3 linked regions of the Homo sapiens genome follow. The protein of the gene in region 3 interacts with the protein of the main gene of each other region in a pairwise test. Each region holds a gene or a part of one and is shown on either strand. Other genes may lie near its edges.

Evidence for each region.
Region 1: the proteins of VWC2L (region 3) and TYRO3 interact in binary tests that used the Homo sapiens proteins (3 or more experiments, as listed by UniProt).
Region 2: the proteins of VWC2L (region 3) and NR4A3 interact in binary tests that used the Homo sapiens proteins (3 or more experiments, as listed by UniProt).

The regions. Positions count from the first base shown.
Region 1 is NC_000015.10:41,568,743-41,576,316, reverse strand, and holds part of TYRO3 (tyrosine-protein kinase receptor TYRO3 isoform 1 precursor), read right to left. Parts: intron 7,440-7,574; coding exon 7,295-7,439; intron 6,291-7,294; coding exon 6,161-6,290; intron 6,078-6,160; coding exon 5,977-6,077; intron 5,714-5,976; coding exon 5,618-5,713; intron 5,280-5,617; coding exon 5,199-5,279; intron 4,723-5,198; coding exon 4,630-4,722; intron 3,875-4,629; coding exon 3,753-3,874; intron 3,316-3,752; coding exon 3,206-3,315; intron 3,010-3,205; coding exon 2,850-3,009; intron 2,639-2,849; coding exon 2,502-2,638; intron 2,120-2,501; coding exon of another isoform or gene 2,086-2,119; exon of another isoform or gene 52-2,085; intron 1-51. UniProt on the Homo sapiens protein: Receptor tyrosine kinase that transduces signals from the extracellular matrix into the cytoplasm by binding to several ligands including TULP1 or GAS6. Regulates many physiological processes including cell survival, migration and differentiation.
Region 2 is NC_000009.12:99,817,311-99,824,989, reverse strand, and holds the start of NR4A3 (nuclear receptor subfamily 4 group A member 3), read right to left. Parts: upstream 3,106-7,679; 5' UTR 2,583-3,105; intron 1-2,582. UniProt on the Homo sapiens protein: Transcriptional activator that binds to regulatory elements in promoter regions in a cell- and response element (target)-specific manner.
Region 3 is NC_000002.12:214,413,616-214,421,189, forward strand, and holds part of VWC2L (von Willebrand factor C domain-containing protein 2-like isoform 1 precursor), read left to right. Parts: intron 1-498; 5' UTR 499-578; coding exon 579-968; intron 969-7,574.

The sequences.
Region 1 (7,574 bases), on a different chromosome or scaffold from region 3:
GAGACTGAGGCACGAGAATCGCTTGAATCCAGGAGGTGGAAGTTGTGGTGAGCCAAGATTGTGCCATTGCACTCCAGCCTGGGCGACAAGAGCAAAACTCCATTTCAAAAAAAAGAAAAAGTCCTCACTATTCATATATAACTTTTGAGTATCTGGAAAAAGCTTCCAGCTCTCCTGCCAACAGGAATTAATTTTTTTTTTTTTTTTTTTTTGAGATGGAGTTTTGCTCTTGTTGCCCAGGCTGGAGTGCAATGGTGTGATCTCGGGTCACCAGAACCTCTGCCTCCCGGGTTCAAGTGATTCTCCTGCCTCAGCTTCCCAAGTAGCTGGCATTACAGGCATGCGCCACCACGCCCAGCTAATTTTGTATTTTTAATAGAGGCGGGGTTTCTCTATGTTGGTCAGGCTGGTCTGGAACTCCCGACCTCAGGAGATCCGCCTCCCAAAGCGCTGGGATTACGGGCGTGAGCCACCGTCCCCTGCCAGGAATGCTTTTTTACATACAATTTCAGGAACCTTATAAATTCCCTGAAGCCTATCACTCAGGATGCCCAAGGAATGCCTCAGGCTCAGGTGGAAAAATAACAAACCAAAAACCTAATGGAAAGACGCTGAGACCAAGTCCAATGAATGCAAATGCCTGACTCTCTTGCCTATGCCCATGACAAGAGCCCCAAGCACTGCCTCACACACCAGCACACCCCCAGCAGGGGCCACCAGTAATGGCAGTAATCATGCCAGACACTGAACAGGTCGTGGGAATGGGAATGGTCTGGGGCCGTGGGTACATGGCCAGACTGGGACACGTCCTCAAGGCTGTGCTAGGAGCCAACTGGCGCCTGTCCACCAGGCTGCCTGGGTGAGGCCAGTGCCTGCCCACTCTCCATTGACAGCACCAGCTCCAGCTGGGGAGGAGGCTGCGCTGGGGTCTGGTCCCCACTGCCCTTCAGAGCTTCTACAGCGCCAGATTAGAACTGAAGCAGGCTGCAGCCACAGGGAGATGTGAGCTTCCTGCCCCTTGCCATGCCCTGAGCTCTGCTGAATGAACAGGAGGGCCAGGGCCTGGCTTGTCTACTCAAGATTTCCCTCTCAGGTGTAGGTGAGTTACCCACAGCCCAGGCTCAGGGCACTTCAAACCCACTGTCCAAGGGAAGGACCCCACCATCAGGCTGAGCCTTCCTGTGCCTGTCCATGACCTCGGCCCTCTGGAAGTCCAATCCCAGAGCAAGAAATGGAGCAGATTCTTTCTCTGGTCACAGTGGCTCCCACTCCCCCTGGGGCTCATGAAAGGTCCTCTGGGCTGGGCGTGGTGGCTCACACCTGTAATCCCAGCATTTTGGGAGGCCAAGGCAGATGGATCCCTTGAGCCCAGGAGCGCAAGACCAGCTTGACAAATATGGCGGAGCCCTGTCTCTACAAAAATACAAAAATTAGCCGAGTGTGGTGGCACGTGCCTGTAGTCCCAGCTACTTGGAAGGCTGGGGAGGGAGGATCACTTGAGCCCAGGAGGTTGAGGCTGCAGTAAGCAGAGATCACGCCACTGCACTCCAGCCTGGGTGACAAAGCGAGACCCTGTCTCAAAAAACAAAACAAAAAATACTCACAAAAGGTTGTCTGAAGGCCTAGGGAGCCCTTGGCTTGGATGGAGTGGGAGTGTAAGACTAGAACAGACAAATCACAGTTGTTGTCATAAAGAGTTAAGAGTATATATTCTAAAACTACAGGGATCTAGGTTCAAATTCCAACTTATTCACTTACTAGCTCTGTGACGTTGGCCATGTTACTTAATCTCTCTAATCCTATTTTCTCATCTACAAAGTGGGGATAAATAATAGTCTTTTCCTCATAAGGTCAGAGGAAGATTACCTGAAAGAATGCCTAAATGCCCAGCTAATGTCAGTGACACTTCCCATTATCTTGTCACAGGGTCTGTTATCACTGTAGCAAAGTGGGTGGTATCATTGCCTGCCCAGTCCCGAGGGCTTTGGGCTTGCAGAAAGAAGAGGAGGCAGTTCCCTTCTTCCCAGGATCTCAGTTCTTTATCTTAGATTCCCAAGAGAGCTCAGCCTAGGAAGTTTTCTTAGACTAGCTGGGGTCTCCAGGACAAAGGTTGTATTCACTAGGGTAGAACAAATAAAATAAAATAAATACAAATTAAAAAAAGAAAAGGAATGACGGGTGGGAAGATGGCAGGGAAACCTCCCACACTGTTACTCAGCACTGTGCCTTCTGCTCTTGGGGTTCCTGGTTCTCCTTACAAACTGGAGAAAAGAGACTGATAGACAAAGGCTAAAGCAAGAAATCTGGGATGGGAAAGGGGGAAAGAAAGAAAACAGGGAGGTGGTAGATGAACAGTGAGTATGAGGTGGAGTGCAGCCTTCCAACTACAAGGATGTTTCTATCAAAAAACAAAGGTCCAGTTGAGGCAACTGTGGTGGCAGCCATCAGCCAAAACTCCAGATTCCCCTTTCCTTCCAGAGCCCCCTTCCCAGGATACTCACACGTCCTCCATACACTCCGGAGGCTGTTTCAGGCGGTTCCCGCCAATGAGGTAGTTGTAAATCTCAGCGTTTTCGATGCCAGCATATGGCGTCTGCCCACGTGTCATGATCTCCCACATGGTCACCCCGAACGCCCACTGGGACAGAATCGAGGTTGGGGGAGAAGCTGTCACTAGGTGTCCTGAGCCAGGCAGAGAGCCATGGCTCTGAGACAAGCACAACCTGGGGCTCAGGGCCTCATCAGGGGGCAACCAAACCCCAGAGAGCAGACTTGGCTAGGCCCTTAAGGATCCTAAAGGTCTGCTCTCACACTCGTCCCCACCAAGCTTCACGGGCCACCCTGCTCACCACGTCACTCTGCACAGTATACAGGTTGTCGGCCAGGCTCTCCAGGGCCAGCCACTTGACAGGCAGTTTGGAGGCACAGCCTTGACGATAGTAGTCCCCACTGTAGATCTTCCGGGAGAGTCCGAAGTCAGCCACACACACTGTCATGTCCTCTGCCAGCCTACAAGGGGCATTGAGGGAGAGAGTCAGCCTTCTGCCATGCTCACAGGCCCACAAGAGCCAGGACATCTTTGCATCTTTGCTCCCAAGCTACCCCCATGCATAGCAGATACTGTCCCAGGCAGGAGCCGACCATCAGCTAGCTCCTCTTGGCACCTGCTGCTGTCTCCCACCCTCGAGTCCTCCAGAATTCGTACATGCAATTCCGAGCAGCCAGGTCTCGGTGGATGAAGTTCCGAGAGCTCAGGTACTCCATGCCGCAGGCAATGTCCACCATGAACCGGATCAGGGTCTGGAGGGGTAGGTTCTAGTGGACAGACAGGCCAAGCTCAGGCTTAACCTGCCCACCCAGCTGGGGCAGGATGGATGGGGGTCCCTGGCCAGAAAGCCTGAAGGCTGTCCCCAGAATCACTGGAAGGAAGGAAGGGGATGGAGGGCCTTCCCAAGGCAAGGAAGCTTCGGCTAGCCTAAGAGGGAGCCTGGAAGACGAGACTCCCCCACCCTGGGGCTCCACAAGTCCCTCCCTCTAGAAAGGGCCCTTGCCCAGCCTATATTTCTCAGCAGGGTTTTGTGAGAGAAAAGAAAGCCTGCTAGATTAAAAGGATTCAAACTCAGACCCCTCCTACTCCCACCCAGCTCCATCAGCCCTACCCAGCAAGCCCCTCTCTGCCAGGGTCTCTATGCCTTTCCAGGCCCTGTGTTCCCACCCGTTTCCTCCTGGCCACCCCCACACCAGGTACTCACAAAGGGGTTCTCCCCAATCCGGGAGGCGAGCAGGAAGGCATGCAGGTCCCCATGCTTCATGAAGGGCAAGATGACCATGGGGATGGGGAGACGGCCTTTAGCCCTGCTCCGGAGGCTTACCCCTGGGACAAGGGAGAGTCAGGAGCTGAGCATAGAAGGGTCAAGGGGCAGTTCAGGTGTCTGCATAAGTCCCCACCTGCTGGGTCCCATCTCTAGCTCTGGCTCTGCTATTTATTTTTTATTTTTTCACAGGCTCCACACTGGTCTGGGGACTACCCAGGAGGGACTCTGGCTGCTCCCATATCCCTGGAGCATCTTCTGTCCCCTTCCTTTCCTTCTCTGTCCACACAAGCAGTCTTTGTTTTTTCTGAAACAGTATCTTGCTCTGTCATCTAGGCTGGAGTGCAGTGGCGCAATCACAGCTCACTGCAGCCTCAATGTTCTGGGCTCAAATGATCCTCCCACCTCAGCCTCCCGGGTAGCTGGACAAAGGTGCACACCACCACACCTAGCTAATTTTTGTATACGTGTGTGTGTGTGTATGTTTTTTGTTTTGTTTTTTTTTTTTAAATAGAGGTGGGCTGTTGCTATACTGCCCAGGCTAGTCTCAAACCCCTGGCCTCAAGCAATTCTCCCACCTCAGCCTCCCAAAGTGCTGAGGTTATAGGCATGAGCCACCACATCCAGCCACACAGTCTTCATGTGCAGACCTTTGGCACTCCTCACCTCAGATTTCTGCCAGGACCCTCCTTGCTATTTTGCCATCTATTTATTTACCAGATGAGTCCAAAAGTCTCTCCTATAGGCTGCCATCTCATATTGGTAGAGCATATTTTTAGCCCTATTCTCTATCTGCCTCCCCCAAAAATGGGCTCACCAACAAGTTTGGCCACGTGTGGATGGTCAAACTCCTTCATGCAAGCTGCTTCCCTGAGGAACTCTTCAATGTCGCTTGAGGCAATGATGTCAGCTAGGAGAAGGGGATGGGGAAGGAGGAAATAAAACAAGATGTGCCCCTAGTTTTGACCCAGGCCTCCTAGGTCTTGTCCTTCAGATGTCCTAGGCTTCCCAGGGAGCCCAGGAAACAGCCCAGCCATGAGCAGGAGAAACCCCCAAGGAGTGGTGATACTTAGCAACTTCTCCACTTGCTAATGCCTTCCCTTCCCTTTGGTTTGGGCAGCCCAGCAGGTCAACCAACCACAGCTGTAATCACCCAAGAGGGGACTCAGAGGACAGTCACTGCCGATGGCAGAGAGCAATGGCTGGGCATGAATATGTATGTTTGGGTTTATGCTTGTGAATTATTCGTGTGGTAAAGAGCATCCCAGTTAGTGCTGCCCAGCTCTTCTTGGAAAATCTAGGGGCAAAGCAGAGCCTGCTTCAGGGTCAGTCGCCCCTCTTACCCTTCCAAGTGATGCCCTCAGGCTACAGCTATCCCCCACTCACCTTTCAGCATCTTCACAGCCACTTTCACAAAGGAGCCATCCTCTTGCTTCAGCTGGGCCTCCCGCACTGAACCAAACTCTCCTAGGAACCAATCCAAGTAAGGGAGAGTCTCCTTGGCTCTCTGCTCCCTGCCAACCTTCCTCCCAAGTGACCCTCCATGGGAACACAGTCAGCAGACTCTGGGGCCAGTGGAGAAGGCACCCTTGCCAGTAGCCAAAGCAAGAGCATGCTGGGAGCAGCTCCTCAGCCCTCCCTGTCTCCAGCCACCATTCCCCACAAACATCCCACACTCAGGAGTCTACAAGCATATCTTGTTTACGGCAACCGACCCAAACCCACAGCCTCAAAGTGACAGGGGCAACCAAACACTTCCAGCTACAGCAAACCAGCCATGCCCATCCCCACACAGCCTCACATACCTTTGCCCAACATCCGGCCCAGGGTGAACTGCTGCTCTGGGATGAGCACATCCTCCAGTTTTTCCTTTAGTTCATCGCTGATGCCCAAGCTGTCCACTGTGGGGAAAGGGTTTGTGGGAAAGAGGGATCTCTGATTCCTGAGCCAAAACCCAGCCTCTTATACCCCAGACTCTGCCCTCAGAGCATAGAGATGAGCTTAGGTCTCCCACGGCTGGGGTGGTGAACTCCACACAGGCAGATTTGTGTGCCTGGGGCTCACTGATGTTCAGACATATCAGTCAAATTAATAATTTGGTAAAAGAATGCAGATGGGGCACAAGACAGCCCATTTGTCCTTCCCACGATCACCCACCACTCACATGTGGCCTCGATGCGCTCGGGCCTTTCTCGATTGAAGGACCGGGCTGCCCGGAAGTGAACGGCTGGCTCTCCCCGGGCCATGACACTGTCAAAGGCTTGCCTAAAGGAAAACCCAGGATTTGGGGTCAGCTCCAAGGTCTTTCATCATTACCTGCCTCTCCCTCCACATCCCCATCCCCTTACCCAAACCGCGTCTCTTTCCGTCTCTTTCGAAGCAGGATGAGGGCCAGGGCAGCAGCCGTCACCAGGGCCGTTAGCACACCAAGGACCACAGGTACCCAGGATGTGCGGCTGTGAGGAGGGCCCTGCTGGCCTGTGGGAGGGAGGTGCAGTGGCATGAGCTAGGATGACACCATGAGGTCCCTTCAGAACTTTCCCAGGATGGCCATCCAGCTGGTTCAAGGGGCTCCTCTAGGTCAATAAGGGTCCTGAGGGAAAGGGGCTCCAGAGGAATGCCTAAGAGTCCTTCCTACCTGGTCAGAGACAGGCCCTGGCTGTTGTGACCTAGAGGGTGACCATGGATTTCTATGCCAGTTCTGGGGCAGAGAGAGGAGAATGAGATATAGTTTGTTTGAGACACAGTCTTGTTCTGTTGCCCAGGCCAGAGTGCAGGGGCACAGTTGCAGCTCACTGCAGCCTCAACCTCCTGGGCTCAAGCAATCCTTCCACTTCAGCCTCCCAAGTAGCTGGGACTACAGGTGTGCAACATCACACCTGACTAATTTTTAAATTTTTTTGGTAAAGTCTCACTTTGCTGCCCAAGGTGGTCTCAAACTCCTAGACTCAAGCAATCCTTCCACCTCAGCCTCCCAAAGTTGTGGGATTATAGGTGTGAACCACCACTCCTGGCCTTATTTGTTTGTTTCTTTAGAGACAACAGACTCACTCTGTTGCCCAGGCTGGAGTGCAGTGGTGCAATCATAGCTCACTGCAGCCTCAAACACCTGGGCTCAAGCAATCCTCCTGCCTCAGCCTCTGGAGCAGCTGGGCTTAACAGGCATATGTCACTACACCAGGCTAATTGTTTTTTTTTTTTTTTTTTAATTTTTTTGTAGAGACAGAGTCTTGCTATGTTGCCAGAGCTGGTCTCAAACTGCCGGCCTCAAGCGATCCCTCAACCTCCCAAAATGTTGGGATTACAGGCATGAGCCACCATGCCCAGCCAAGATAGTTTAAACAGCCCTGGCCTCAACTTCTTCACTCTGTCTGTGGGTCTACTAGGAGGGGAGATGCTACTAGGCTCCTCCCATCAGTCTAGGTTGCCCTTGAAAACCTTGATCCCCTGAGCCTCTGCCCCTCTCCACCTACAAGCCTCACCTGCACGGTCATGAGAAGAGACCACCAGTGGCTGACTCCAGGGTCCACAGCCAACTGCATTGGAGACGCACACACGTACGATCAGGTCCTTTTGGGGATCCCAGCCTGTCAAATTGGCCCTGGTCCCCTCCACTGTCAGCTCATCCTGCAGCCAGGAAAAGCCCCCACCCCATAGTGAGCCTGGGGAGAAGGCCTCCAGCTGGGGCCTGAGGACAGAAAAAGGTCCAGCTGGGAACATGGGAGTATAGGGGCACTGTGGGTTCAGGGGCTGCAGGAACAC
Region 2 (7,679 bases), on a different chromosome or scaffold from region 3:
GCGGACGGCGTTAGCGGCTGATGGGACGAGCGGAGGCAGGTCCCCTGCACCCAGAGGGCGGTGTCTTCGAGGGTGGGCGGCTTGGAGGCTCCTGGCCACCCAGCGGCCTAGCGGGGGCACATTCCTGAGGGCGCCGAGCGCAGCTCCGGGACCAGCGTCTCAGCCCACAGCCTCAGCGAAACTTTGTAGCTGAAAGCGCAGCTCAGCAGGCCTCAGGGAAGGAACTGGGTGCCCAAACTCCGGCCTATAGCGCCCCCTTTGCCCGGGGTGGGCGCAGCTCGAAGAGTGGGAACAGGGACCGAAAAACCCCAAATCAAACCAAACCAAAAACCTCCGAGGTGCGCGGGGCCACGAGGGTCATCTCCTGGCGCCCCTGAGCCCGGGGCTTGCCTGCAGGAAGAGAGAAAGGGACTCGGGGCTCCCAGGTCCAGGAAACCCTCGACGACCAGGAAATGGGGGATTCCCTTGCCACCCCCAGCCCCAGCTGGAGCTGCTCGGACGGAAAGCTTGCGCTCGATGTAGCGCGGGTAGAAGCGGATCTTCCCACGGCTGTAGCACGTGCTTCCCGTCTCCCCGCATCTTCAATGGGGGTCTCCAGCAATCCCCCACCCGCCCCTTCAGTGGGTGCCCGCATTCCCGTCCCGCATTCCCTGAGGGCCTTTCAAGCGGAGTCGTTCTCTGAGAGGAGGCCTCAGAACTCGGGTGGGCGGGGACCGCCTCTCCCCAACGAAGGAGTTCCCCTCGAGCGCCCAGCGTTCGCGGGAGGGACCCACACAGCCTTTCCTCCAGCCCAGCCCAGCGCCCCGCCGCTCTCTCCACCCCACAAGCGGCCGGTTACCTAGGCAAAGCCTCAGTGCCTGGAAACACGTTCCGCCGCTCCTGCTTGCGGCCGCCGGGGCCGGGAGCACAGAGCCTTGGGGTTGTAAATTAGGAAGAAATAACTACCTCTGTCAAAGCCCCTTTCTTTCTCGTGGGCAGACGAAAGGAACACCCCCGTGTTCCCCTCCCGGTGGTGAAGTGTGTGGAGGAAACCGTGAAACGCACCATTGTGACCGGGGCTCCTCTGCGGAGTTTCCAACCCTGGGGAGCGGGGGCGGAGGTTGGGCGGGGGCAAGAGGAGCGAGGGAGAGACTGACAGAAAGGGAAAGACTGAGATTCTCAGAAAGACCGAGGGAGACTAGACAAACCGCGGGGAAGAATTTCTGTGAGCGCACGGTCCCAGGCAAAGGGGTGGATGGGTGCCGGGGGGTGGGGGGCGGAGCGGACGTGGAGGTTGCTGTGGCCTAAGGAGGCTTTGATACTAACTCTGCGAGCATCTTGTTCAGCGAAAATAACTCGAATAAAGTAACTTCATTCATTGTGCCCATCAGCCACGTTAGGCAGCTTTTTCTTTCCCTAACTTGATTCTATAAAATATTTCCCGGTCGTGGGAAAAGGAGATCCGGCACTGGACTCGCGATGGAATGACGGCTCCCTGTTCTTCTCTCCCAGCACCACAAGGCCCTGGGATCACAGCCCGACATTTCTGATTACTAACTCCTCGCAGCTCTTCCCTCTGGAGAATCCGGACGCATAAATAAATAAAAGGCAATCTCCAAGAACGTTTTTGGAAATCAAGGGACAAATGCGTTCTTCCTCACCACTGCCCCGAGGCTTCCAACAGGTTGGAGAGGTGCCTTTGGAAGTCAGTCTCCGCAGGCTGCGCTCGCATGACCGCTCTCGTCTCACCACCGAGAACTTTCATTTCTACTAAGAGTAAAACACTCGGAGCAACTTCTCCAAAAGCGCGAGTTCTGTCCGTGAAAAAGCATGCCTTTCCCACACCGAGCCAACGTCCAGAGGAGAGGGACACCGTCCCCACACGTGTCAGTGTGCGGGAGTCGCCAATTACACCCGATTTACCTCCTAAGGGAAAAGTGTAAACCGGCATGTCAGCGACGACAGGCAGACGTGCCTAGTGGAACCCCAGGCTCATTTCAATACAATAAGCCACATTCCTACAATTACGCCCTCTTTCCTGAGGTCCTCCGAGTGCGTCTGCAAACTCTGGCCGTCGCTGCCTAGGCCCTTCCCTCCTAAGCTTCCTTCCAGAGAACCAGCTCGGTGCCACCATTAGCAACATTTACTTGGACCCACCAGAGCTCCTATTTTCAATCCTACTTAAAAGGCAGGAAAATTACTGCCGTTCATCACCGGAGCTGCAACTCCCTGCCGCTGCCGCTGCCGCCGCCGCCGCCGCCGCCGAGAGCATCATTACCATGACAACTAGAGCCGAAATACCCTGAATTACATCGCTGGAGCCGCTATAGCACAAATCCCGGTCCTCCTCTTTGTTAGAGGCTTTTCGCCTCTTCGAGTGGGGGGAGGAATCCCACGAGCTCCAGAGATCCCCGCGGGCCCACTACAGGGGAAAAGTTTCAGATCAGAACCTACGGGCCGCTGGGCTAGCAAAGCCGGAGCCGGGCGGCAAGGTCAGGGGAGGGAACCCCACACTCAAAGTTGTCAATTTCAGGAGCGACGCTTCCCAGCAAGCCAACTTTTTTAGCAAGTCCCCTTATTAACTGGGCGAATCTCATACGTACTTGAGTGCTGTGGCGGTTCCGTCTTTAGAGCGAGTTTCTAGAGAGCTGTCCCGAAATCTGCACTGGGGGGGAGTCACAGCTGCTGTCCCGGAAGGGCTGCGGTGTACAAGCCCAGCGGCTCCCGGAGGCGGTGAGCGGCTGGTGGGGGATGCTGCGATCCCGACTCATGGGAGAGCACAGCCGAGAGGTTCCGCGGGCGTCCTGGCTTGGGCTGTGACCAGGGGGGAGGATGCCGCCGCTGTTCCCACCTCCACGGCCACTGCCGGCACCGTCAGCGTTGCAAAGTGAGCCCGGGAGGGGCGTCCAGCTGCGGCGCCGCGCTGCACCGGCAAGGGCTCAGGGCAAGAGGGGTGTGAGCGCGCGGGAGAGCGAAGTGTGTGTGCGGAGCCTGTGTGCGCGCTTGTGTCTGTGTGTGCGAGTGAGGGAGCGGGTGTGAGCGCGTCTGTGTATGGGGAGCGGAGGAGGAGCAGGAGCTGGAGGGGTGGGGGGCGGGAGGCAGGAGACTCCGCTCTCCCGGCTGCGCGTTCGCTCGCTCTCTCGGCACGTCATTTATGCCACAGGAGCCCTAGCGGCCTCTCCATAGAGTGCCTGGAATGCGAGACGTCAATGTGACGCCATGGGACGCTACGTCACCCTCCTCCTCCCTCCCCTGGCCCAGCCGGTTCCGCGTGTGCGAGGGAGGGTGTGTGTGTTCGTGTGCGCGCGCGCGCGCGCGCGTTCCTCGGCCAGTCGCACGGCCGCACAATGGAAACTCCGCCGCACGGCCGGCCCCGGCCTGGGGGCTTCTCTTTTTGCAGCGGAACCGCTCGCCAGGGCGTGCGTCTGCGGGAGGGTGCAGCGGCCTGCCCACGGGTCAGGCGGGACCGCCCAGCTGTCAGGCTCGGGTGGAGTAGAGTTGGAGGAGTGCTGCTGGCGCGCCTCCGAGGCTGCCCCGAGGCACGGAGCCAGGGCGAGGGGGGTAAGGGAGAGGACAGCTCTTCCGAAAGGGAAGGCTCCGCCAGCCAGCTTCTGACCAGCTCCAGTGACCTGGCAGCCGGTGCAGAAGGCGTCTGGCACCAGCCCGAAGACGCCCTGAGGTGCAGCTGCACTTTCCTCTTGCATAGGTTCTAAAGCTGTTTACGTTGCTCCGGTCCTCTGCGCCCAGGCTAATCCCCCCTCCCCGCATCATTTACTGGGTGCGTGTTTCACACAGGGATGCAGATGGTTCCGGGGATAAGGTTTGATTTCTTTACACGTACGGCGTGGGTTTCTTAACTGGACACGTTATAACCCAGCGAAGTGCACATCCATCATGCACACGCGCGCTGCAGCAGAAACTACTCTGTGTGTAAAACAAACACACACGTGTTGAACAGCTGAGCGGGTCTGACTATTGCAAATCATTCCTCCTCCCCGGCACCGGGTCAGAAATGGAACTCTCAACTAGCACTTTCACTTTTTGATGGTTGTAGATGCCCTCCGCCCACATCTCCCAAATTAAACATTTCGAAATCAATCAACAGGACTTATTAGTCAGTCCCTCGCTAGGGGATTTGCTTTGGTCTCCTCGGACACATTTGTCATGAAATGGTGTGCCGAAAGCCTGGGTGACTGTATGAAGGAGAGCAATTTCTTCCTGGAAATGATAAATTTAAGTGTAAATTTCTTGATGAAAACAAAATTTATCAGAGTTAAAGACCCCTAGTCCCAAAGGTTGCTGCTGAGTGAACGCAGTCTCTTTCAGAAATGAATTTTTGGACAGGAGAAAATATTTGAGTGAAACAATGCAGATAGAGTGGTCCCCATGTGGTCCGCTTGAATCACAAATACCGTTTTATATGTTTGACCTGTCCCAATTTGTGTGTGTGTGGCGGGGGCGGGGGGCGCTGCGCCGAGGGGAGATACAAGATTCCTTTGTAGACAGCACACATTTCAGAATCGAAGAAGGTTCGAGCTAGGACCAGAAACTTGAAAACAAACTACATATAGGTAAATATGGCATGTATATCTTTCTTCGCCTCCACTTCCAATTCAGACACGGTGGTGCGGAGAGGATCGTGGGAGAATGCCCCGAAAGTTGACCCAGCCGAGAGCAACCGAGTCTCTGCACTGCGGCGGGTTCCAATCCAGCCTCGGAAGGAAGGAGGGCGCTGCTACATTGTATCCATTCAAAGGCTTGAAGGGGGGGAGCAGGACCTGGAGCCGCGCGGCGCTGACGCACGCGAGGCGCGTGATTGACGCAGGCGATGTTACTAAATTCGGCGGTTGGCCGGGACCCGCCGCCGGCGCGCGCCGCAGATAGCGGAGTAGGTTCCCCTCGGTCACCCCCGCCCCTTCTCCATTCAACGCCGCGCGGGGCGGGGCAGGGCGCGCGGGGCGGGGCGGGGCGGGGCGGGGAGCGCGCGGCCGCGCCAGGATCCGGCCGAACCAAATATAGTCGGGCCTGGCTATTTTTAGCCGGGTCTCGGGCGCGAGCCCGCCGCGTGAGGGGGCGCCCTGACCCCGCCGGGAGTGCGGAGGGGGCGGGGGCGGAGTCGCCATCTTGGACTCGGTTCGACCAGGTCTGGTGACCGGCGACGAGGGGCCGGGCTCGGCGCCGGGGGTCGGGGTGAGTGGGTGCGAGCCGTGGGAGAGAGGGGGGGCGCTGGCGGCTCTCTTCGTCCGGCGCGGGCTGTGAGAAGTGAGCAGGGCGAGGCGCGGGCGACAGCGGGGCGCGAGGCCCGTGCATGTGTGTGCGCACGGAGGTGGGGAGACGGTGATCCCCGCCCGCCCTGCGGAAGGCCCGGCGGTTCTACCACCCGGCAGCTCGGCCAGCCCCGAGTCGCGTGGGGGCGGAGCTGCCCGCGGCCACCACTTCCTGAGTGCCGGGGATACCCTTCCCGGACGTCACGGAGGAGCCGAGGCGGCGGTGGCGGCCCGGGGCTCATCCTGCACTTGCATCACGGGTGCAGCAGCAGCTGCTCTGCTCCTTTGTGGCTTTTTGCCCCGTTGAGTAACTGCTTTGTTAACTGAAAATACCATGACGGGCCAGTGTGATCACCAGCTCCAGATCTCAAAGAAAGTGAAGCTGTCAGGCAAGAAGAGGGAGACTCCCCCAGCCGGCTGCGATGGTATCTGGTGGGTGGATGTGTAGAGAAGCACTTGACAGTTTCCACGTATTACTTCTTGCCTAACTCTTCACCCCCAAGAAGATTTAAAAATACTTTTATTTCCATGCTGTAAAAATTTCATTTGTGTTCTGCACCTCCCTCACCCCCCTAATCCTCCTTCAATTAAAACTCTCATGTAGAACTGGAATCACTGTAAGCAGGAACCCTAAAATTAGGTACAGTTTTTAGGAAACATGACATCTTTCAATGAATTTATTCAATAAACTACATTTTCTAAATGTTAATATGTATGAAAGGTCCTTGCCCACTCAGGGTTGTTATAAAGCTGCTAAATTGTTCATATGAGTTGGGCTCCAGTGACCGTTTCAAAGCAGTATCCTTGTTTACCTAAATTTAAAACAAAACAAAACAAAAAAACTCTTCTCCCTGGCTGAGAACCTCCAAGCAAAGTTTCCTCTCTTTGAGTGGGTGTGTCTTCTGGACCTCTATCTTGGTTACTTCTGTGCATCCTCCTCCCTTCTCCCCTCCACCTTCCTTTACATCCTTTTCTGTTTTTTACAGCCTCACTCCTTTACATCCGTTCCTTCCTTTACATCCTTACTCCTTTACATCCTTTTCTTCCTATCAAGTGGCCAATATCTGTTCCTGGACTGCTCTGTTAGACTGAGGGCTGTTGTCTGACCTCCCTGAGCCAATCAACTGTTCGTGGCTCAGTGCTTCTCGGGGTAGGAAGGGGGACTGACTGCTGGAGAGGTCACTGAGTGGCAGCCTTTTGAAACTCAAATGGAAATTCATGGAAGCAGAGACACAGCTGTCTCGTAGACGGAGACACCATCCTCTGCTTAATCCTATGTCCCTAAACGTATGCTGTTCTTTAGGTGACCCAAACAGAATTAGTTTTTCTCGAGTCTTTTTTTTTTTTTTGAATTAGTATCTACTGCTCTATTCCTTTTCAAAAGTCGGATTTATTAGAAACCAGGCATAATATTCTGTAAGGCACATGTAATGTGACTATTTCAGTAATCTCAATTTCCTTTTTAAAAAATTTTATTAACTTTTTTATCTCTTCTTTTAGGAAATCAAATAAGACTACCTTAATCTGTGAAACGTTGAAAACTTTCTTGGCTCAGTCCTTTTTCTATAACAGAAGAGAGACATTTATATGTCACTAGTTTACATACACGAAGTTAAGTTTCTGCTTTCATGATGCTTATAGCAGCCAGCCTGTTAAAGAAGTATCTAAATTAACCATTACGGATTCACTGGATAGTTACCTTTCATTTTGTTTTGGATTTGTAGGCCTAATCTGCCTGCAAGAAAGAACTATTTCTCTTAGAAAATAAAATATGAAATTTGGGGGAAACTTATGTGTGATATAAAGCAATTGTTTTAAATTGCTTTAAATGCTCTTCTGATGAAGTAAAGACGTATAATCTTATTGCTTTTACTAATATATAGAGATGATGATTTCTTATTAATGCAAATATTGGGTGAGGAATGGTGAAATAAAAATTCTAAGCCAGAAGTTGTTACCTAGGGTGAAAACAGGAAAGAAAAGTAAAAAATTGTAAGTTCAAGTTTTGTGGAATCAATGTAGAAGTTCTATACTATATTTAAGGTACATATATAAAATTTAGTAACTTCAGCTGACATTGATTTATACACGAGATGTACCTGGCTCAGTAACCTGCAATCATTATAGTAAGTTTCTATCTGACCTACATGCTTGCCATTCGTTATCAATTCCATCATTGCCAGATTAGTCTTCCTAAAATTTAGATTTTGTTATATAACTTCTGGCCTCAAAAGTCTTCAGCAGCTGGATATTTTCTCCAAAATCAAACCTAGAGCCTCTTTTATTTCCACAGAATTTTCCTGTCCTAGTCAAACTGGTGTTCTCACTGTTCTTCAAACTTCCTTTCAACCTCCCACATTTGTTGATAGTTTTCCTTTTTATGGCATCCCCTCCTTCCTCTTCTTCTCCACTAATTGAAATTTACTCTTCCTC
Region 3 (7,574 bases):
CCTAAATATAATTTATATTCAACTGTTGGTTTATTCCCTTTCCTTTAGAATTAGATTTTTTTCTCACTAATCTCTTGAGTTGACACAGATAATTATAACATATGTTCCATCACTGACTAGTCCAGTTTAAAGAATAATAGAAAATGTGAGTTCAAATATTCTTGAGCTATTTGTAAGTTACTCCTTGGATCACATTTTGGGGCTCAGTAAAACCATTTCTTTGCAATTTAGATAAAGCCAGACCTATGAAATTCAGAAGGAAAATTCAAGCTGAAGGTTCCTATATAAAATAATCCAAAAGGACAAATTTTAATGCATATATTGCCAAGTATCAACTCTCCAAACCTCACAATAAGGCACAGATAGTTGCATGAACTTAGTCTATTTGAGGACTTAGTATCTTCAAATTGATCCCAAACAGTTTAAGAGCGTGGGCTTAAATGAATCTATCTTCACTTTATATATGTCAAATTATTCTTTTTAAATATTTATTTTCAGCCTACCCCTCTTGTATTCCCATGGAAGGAGCTGAGTATATTTAATATTAGGAGCACATCCAGAAGTCTTTGAAGAGGGGGATGGCTCTTCATATTCATGAAGCTTGCATACTTCTGTTGGTCATCCCTGGATTGGTCACCTCTGCTGCTATCAGTCATGAAGACTATCCTGCTGATGAAGGTGACCAGATCTCCAGTAATGACAATCTGATCTTTGATGACTATCGAGGGAAAGGGTGTGTCGATGACAGCGGCTTTGTATACAAGTTGGGAGAACGATTTTTCCCTGGGCATTCCAACTGTCCATGTGTCTGTGCTCTAGATGGACCTGTTTGCGACCAACCAGAATGCCCTAAAATTCACCCAAAGTGTACTAAAGTGGAACACAATGGATGCTGTCCTGAGTGCAAAGAAGTAAAAAACTTCTGTGAATATCACGGGAAAAATTACAAAATCTTGGAGGAATTTAAGGTATGCGTTACCCTCCATATTTATTGAAATATCAACTTTTCATACCACGTGCTTAGTACATTGCTACATTAAAGTCAGAGTTGGAAAAATGTACTTTAAAATTTCCCTTTAAATTATACAATTTGATTCTAATTACCATAAGTAGCACCATGGTCAACAAATGGCCAACTGGTTTGTTGATCATATTTGTTAAGTTGCACAATAACCTTTATTTTTTTTCCCAGAAGTATTTGGGGCATACCTAACACCTTTTATTTTTGCCCTTAAACATTTCTTCTCTGTTATTACAAAATATGTTTTCTGATGGGAACAATTTTGTGTATAGTGTATGTGTCTCCTAAATTAATTTTTTAATTGTGTCAGTTTTGTGTGTTGCTTATTAGCCTGTATTTGAAGTCATTTAACAATATAGTCTAGAATTATTTGTTTATTGTGTGGAAAAGCTACAGAGATATACTTCTTAGCTGTGGTCCTCATATTAAGAAAATGCATTGGGCCTACTTGTGGTCAAGCAAGATCCCCATTCTGTTCTCTGCTCGCTGGATTTTTTGCTTTCAGGATTCCACAGAGAACTGAATTTTTATCACAATCCATGTAAAGAGTAGTAAAAAAGACTGTAATTTTTTTCAGCCTACCTGGTATTTTTTAGTTTTTCTTTTACGCTTGCGTCATATTTTCAAAGTAGCTTAGAGTTCATTTTTATCCCTTATTGAACTTTCTTTTCCCCAATGGCTAGTTTTAATTGGGATATCCTACAAGCCTGATCTGAACCCTGAAGGTATGAATACATGAAAAATGTCCACCTTAAATGTAATGGCAGTTTGTGCCTGGAGTGTCTGTCATACTGATGGCTTTATATAAAATGTTCCCATTTCATCTAACCAAGTTCTGTGATGAGGTGCTCAGAACCTTAGAGGTAAAAGCAGATATAGCTAGTTTTCAGTGTGGGTGTTTATGTATGAGAGAAGACATTTCCATTATTAGCACTGACCCAACTTCTCTCACCACAAGGGTCAAATGGTGCCAGAAATCAGTATGTAGAAAAAAGGTCTCAACTGATCATCATTAGCATAATCTGTGTATTCATAGTTAATTGTATTTAGTTCATTATTAACCTGGAATGAACCAGGTTAGCGGTTCAAGCCAGTTCTGATTTACCCAAGAATACCCAGTCATTGGAACTAGATTCCTTAGGACAAAAGGGAAATTTTAATTGTGACATTCAACTTCCTTAGACATGTTATTCTCGACTTTTGTCTTTCGTGTATTATTTTATTGCACAAAATTAAGAAGTAAAAGCATGAGAGTCTAGTAAAAGTATCATTGTTGACACCAAATAATAGTTGAGAGTAGAGTACATTTATTAATGGTTTTATGATCTCTAAAATATTGTATATATTTTGACATTACCTATTTTTAATGTCATCTTAATGGAAGTAAGTAGAAGTACTCAACACACTTGATTCTAGCAGTCATATCACCCTTTTCTAACCTGCATTTATATCTAGACTAGAATACAAAAGGGTATTGTAGGAACAGCGTTTCATAACTAGCACAAATAAAAACATAAGTTTCTGAGATTTATATAATTTGGTAATCTGTATTTAATAAAGAAAATATTGTCTAACTTAACTCACTATTGAAAATGCTATAGTTTTCCCTCTATTTATTAGATTTTACTACAAAGATAATAACTATGTTACCATGTCAAACAATATAGAGGTATTTAAAGAAAAAGTTAATAATTTCTGTACCCCTTCTCGTTATAACCCTACTATAATCTAATTAATCCCTACTACTTCTTTCCTAATGTATGATCCATTAATATGCACAGCTTTTTCACCTGGCTTTTTGTGTCATAAAATTTTTGATGTGATTTTTAAAATAATAGATATCACTTTTTTTAACAAGAATTTAGAGTCATAAAGAGTTTTAGAGACTATATAGGGCAAATGTGTCAGAATGAGAAACTGAGACCAAAAAAGTATAAATTACTTATCCAAAATTGTCAAGTTATTTATCTTAATTCTAAATGCTGCCATTCTAACATACTATATGATCTCTCAAAGCAGTTTGTCACTAAGGTCAGATAGACTTGGATTCGAATCCCAAATTCATCACTTGGATATAAATTTTTGAATGGAGTTCTTAAACTTTTTGATCCATAGTGGTATTGACCATAAAATAGCCATTGTAATAATCACTTTCCTTAGGAGGAGAGGTTGGAAATTCTTAATAACATATAATTTCTCTGAAGTCACTAACCTTGTGATGACGGGTACACAATAGGTATTAAATAAATGATTGTCCCCTCCTTCTTAACTCTAATATCCAGGGATTTACTCTAAATTCTAAATTCCTCTATGGCTTTGCCTACATTTTATAATGAAAGTTCAACTTTAAAAGACTTTCAAATGAAGAATTCTCATACCTTTTTAAAATGCTCTACTTATCCCTATGAACCATACAACTCTAAGTAAATATTAGCCATAATCTGTCATCTTGATTCTCTTCCAACTCAGCTTGCAAGGAACAAGTCATTAATTATTAAAGATGCATAAAACTTTCATATAATAATGTTGATATGTCAATTAGGGAGGTTGTATTATGAGATAATCTTCACATAAATATATTCATCCAACAAGCATTTATCAGACCGTTCAGTAGATAAGATACTGTAGACGTACTTACAATTGAAAGTAGGATATCTAGAAACCAAAATCTCTGCTCACAAGAAAGACATGATCGATGTGAAGAGAGAAGGGGGAAAAAGCAGGTAAAAGTTAAGTATATGATTATGAAATCCCAATATAACTCCCAAGAGATTGTGATGGCAGAAGCTTATCAAAATAGTATGAGGCTTGGTTAAGCAAGAGATTTGTCTTCAGGATGCTAACCCTATACATCTTGTAGAGCTGCCTGTTCTTCAAGAAGTACTTGAAATTGATCTGGGAAGACTGAAATTCCAAAGACGAAACTGCCAGAGCAAAATCAGAGATTGGGATGAATACAGTCTGCAAAGAGGAGGGAGATGGGTATAATTGGAAGCTAGATATGACTAAAATGCTATCCTAGTAAGAGGCAAATTCAGATATGTGTCGGTGGAGAGTGGATGGAAGGGCCTTGAATACTGGGCCAAAATATTTAGATTCATCTGAAGAATAATAGGAAATAAAATGCGGATTGTTCTGTACATAGATGACCTAGTTAAACATAAATAAAAATGAATGTCCTATATCCAAGCACAGAATTGAATAGAAGTAAAGAGAAATTAATAGTGGAGGAAGGAAGTCTGTTGCAGAAAAAAAGAGAATGAGGTGCACAAGCACAAAGACATTCAGGACAGTTTTCAGGGTAAAATCTAATTTCCCTGCTGTAGCCTAGATTCTACTCATCAACCTCTCCAAATCCCTCAAACTCTTGGTGGCTTTTTTTCCCTGTGTGTTTGCACTGCTGTTCCACAGTATGGAACACTTTTTCAACATTGCTCCCTGTTTAAATCCTACTGGACCACTTCAAGGCTCCATTTAAATCTCACCTCAACTGGAAACCCCTCTCTGTCTGTCCTACCTCATATCTCCCACACTGTATCACTCCTTCCGTATGTTCCCACGGCCTGCTATACACACCATCACTACAAGAACAGTAACTGTTGTCTGATACTGTGAAGAGCTTTATGTATATTATAACACATTTTATTTTACAATAACACTGTGAGAATTATACTTTTATTAGCACTGTTTTACGGATAAGAAAACTGAAGCAGCAGAGTGTAAGTAACTTGTCCAAGACCATACAGCTGGAAAGAGGAAAAAGTAGGACTCCAAGCCAGGCAGCTTGACTGCAGAATCTAAGCTCCTCACCACTTCTAGTGATCTACCCCACAGCAATAATGTAATACATCACACTGCAATAATATTAAATCATGTAAAATATAATATGAAATAATATCATATGAAACCACTCGTCTCTTCCATTAGTCATTGAACCCTTCGAGGCTAGCGACACTGTTTTCTTTTTTCTTTTCCCCTCTATTCCCAACACCGTGTGAGCTATGTAACAGTCATTTAATACCTTTTTTGATGAATAGCATACCAGGTCAAATTGTAATCAAACCTATAGGATAAAGAAGTTAGAATTTCTTTAGAATGATTTAGTTTCTGTTTATGTGTTGATCTCTTCATTTTAATTAAAGAAGCACTGAAAGTTGAGACAAAAAATGCTCTTTGGGCAGTTAAAATGGCACACATTGTTCTCTTATGATAAGACTGCCTATTTTCGTCCTGCCTTTACTTTCTTCCTCTCTCAACCCCTTCCTCACCAAGGGTTGTCTTGGATTCTGTCTCCATCCCAGCATCGCAATGACTACCCAGTGTTTTAGCTGTACTGTCTCACCCTATGCAGTTGCAAATCATAGGTCACACTTCAATATTTTCTGATCACCAAATTCAAATGTAAATTGATCCACATGTGTCACCTGATAGGAAAACTGATGTCATTTATAAAGGTTGTGGGATTTTTGTGGGGTTTTTATTTCATTTACTGATGCAAGCTTTGAAAATGAATTTCTCTCTATTCTTTTTGAAAACTCTAAATTCTCCAGGGTTCTGGTAATATTGTATTAAGATAAAGGTCACTGTATAGTAGGTTCTCTCATCTTTCTTTTATGTGCACCCCGGCAATATGACACTGGAACCTACTTTTTGAGAAATAAAGCATATAAATAATACATTATAATAGCAGTTTCTACCAGAAAAAGTTTATTGGAAATGTAGGCTTAACTATCTTAATGCTGAGTTTCTCAAAGGAAGAAATAATTTCTTATTTTGCTCAGTATTTTTATAACTCTGATTCTGCTAGAATTAGCTTTTTTGACTATTTCCTTATACTTTAGAACTTGTACTGATTTAGTTGTAGGTCATACACTGAAGGTTATACTACATGTAGCTGAAAGAAACCTTTCAGCTTTTGCATAGCTTGTTTTATTTTAAAGTGATTTTCTGCAGCCAATTCCCAGTGTCCCTAATTCAGGATTTGGATTTGCCCAAGATCAGTGCCCTGCTGACACTGACCTTTGTGTTTTTCCCACTATGGGCCAAAGACAGTGGACCAGGTCTCTGAATTCTATATTCGAAAGGTGCGGTGTGAATATTTTTTCAAGTCAAATGTCTTATGGGTTTGTTGTTGCTTTTATAAAAATGAGCCTGTTTTCAGGATGCCAAGTTTTTGCCCTGAATTTTATACTTAATATTTAAATCTCAAGAGAATAAAAGGGGACCCGCCTGGCCAACATGGTGAAACCCTGCCTCTACTAAAAATACAAAAATTAGCTGGGTGTGGTGGCGGGCACCTCTAGTCCCAGCTACTCGGGAGGCTGAGGCAGGAGAATCGCTGGAACCTGGGAGGTGGAGGCTGCAGTGAGCAGAGATTGCGCCACTGCACTCCAGCCTGGGCAACAGAAGGAGACTCTGTTCCAAAAAAAGAAATAAGAAAATTAAGCCGTGGGATTATTTTGCCAAGTCATCACACTCATAAAAATTGTTGATGCCAATTTGGATTTAGAATTGATTTGCCCTTTAATGGGTATATTCACACAGAGACAAAAATTTCAACCTTCTCATTAATAGGTGCCACATTGTTAATGTCCAATATTGTAAAATTAAATCTGTAAAAACGTTTGAGTGGGAAGAATTTTGGAATTCAGGTTTGGGAGAGTCATTTGACGTCTAGTTGTTTTTTTAATATGGAGAAGAAAATGGAAGGCAACATGTTCTAGGAGCTGAGGACCAGACTTATGAAAGAACAGGGAAAACCAGAGGCTGTAGAGATATCTCAGTTGAGGGGACTAACAGGTAGGTAACACTTTGCACAGCACAATTCACTGCCCCTTGCCTACTTACCCACCTGCCATTGCACGAGTGTCTATGAAAAGCACAGGAACTAAGTCAGATGTTTACACAAGGCAAAGGAGTACAAAAAGCATATATATGAAGTATGAAGCCTGTATTTATTTTAATAACAGAGAAATCAGTGGATTATGAGAATAGAGGTGCAGTTTTTAAAGAGTTTTATACAAAAGAGGGTTTTCATTTCTCAACAAATGGGTAGTGGAGTCACCAGGGGCATTTTTAAGATACTATCCCAAGAAAGAACTAGAAAGCATCATGATTTTATGCGGCAAAGATAATTGGGGATCTTTGTAGAGAGGTTGAGAAGATTAATTCCATAATTATTGGCTCTGCAAAATGCAGTTTCTGTTTTGCAGAGCATGTTGTGGCTTTTAACATTAAAATGGCTTTGAGTGAGTTAAAAGGAATGCCTTCCCCTTTCAAGTTGCTACAAAATAACAGTGATTGAGACCTTACAATTGCTTATCTGAGGCTCAGCCTCAGCATGCAGAATGAGTGGGTTCAAAGTGGATATTCTCAATGGGGGATTCCCATCTTCGTAAGTAACTGGGGAACCTTTACGTAATTTTTATACTCTTTGAGTAATTTCATTCCAGAGATTAGAAGTCAATTTTATTAAAAAATTTATAATGTTCACTGCACACTTTTTGCACCCACAAAAGTACACTAAAAGTTTTTTGCACTCACAGAAGTACAT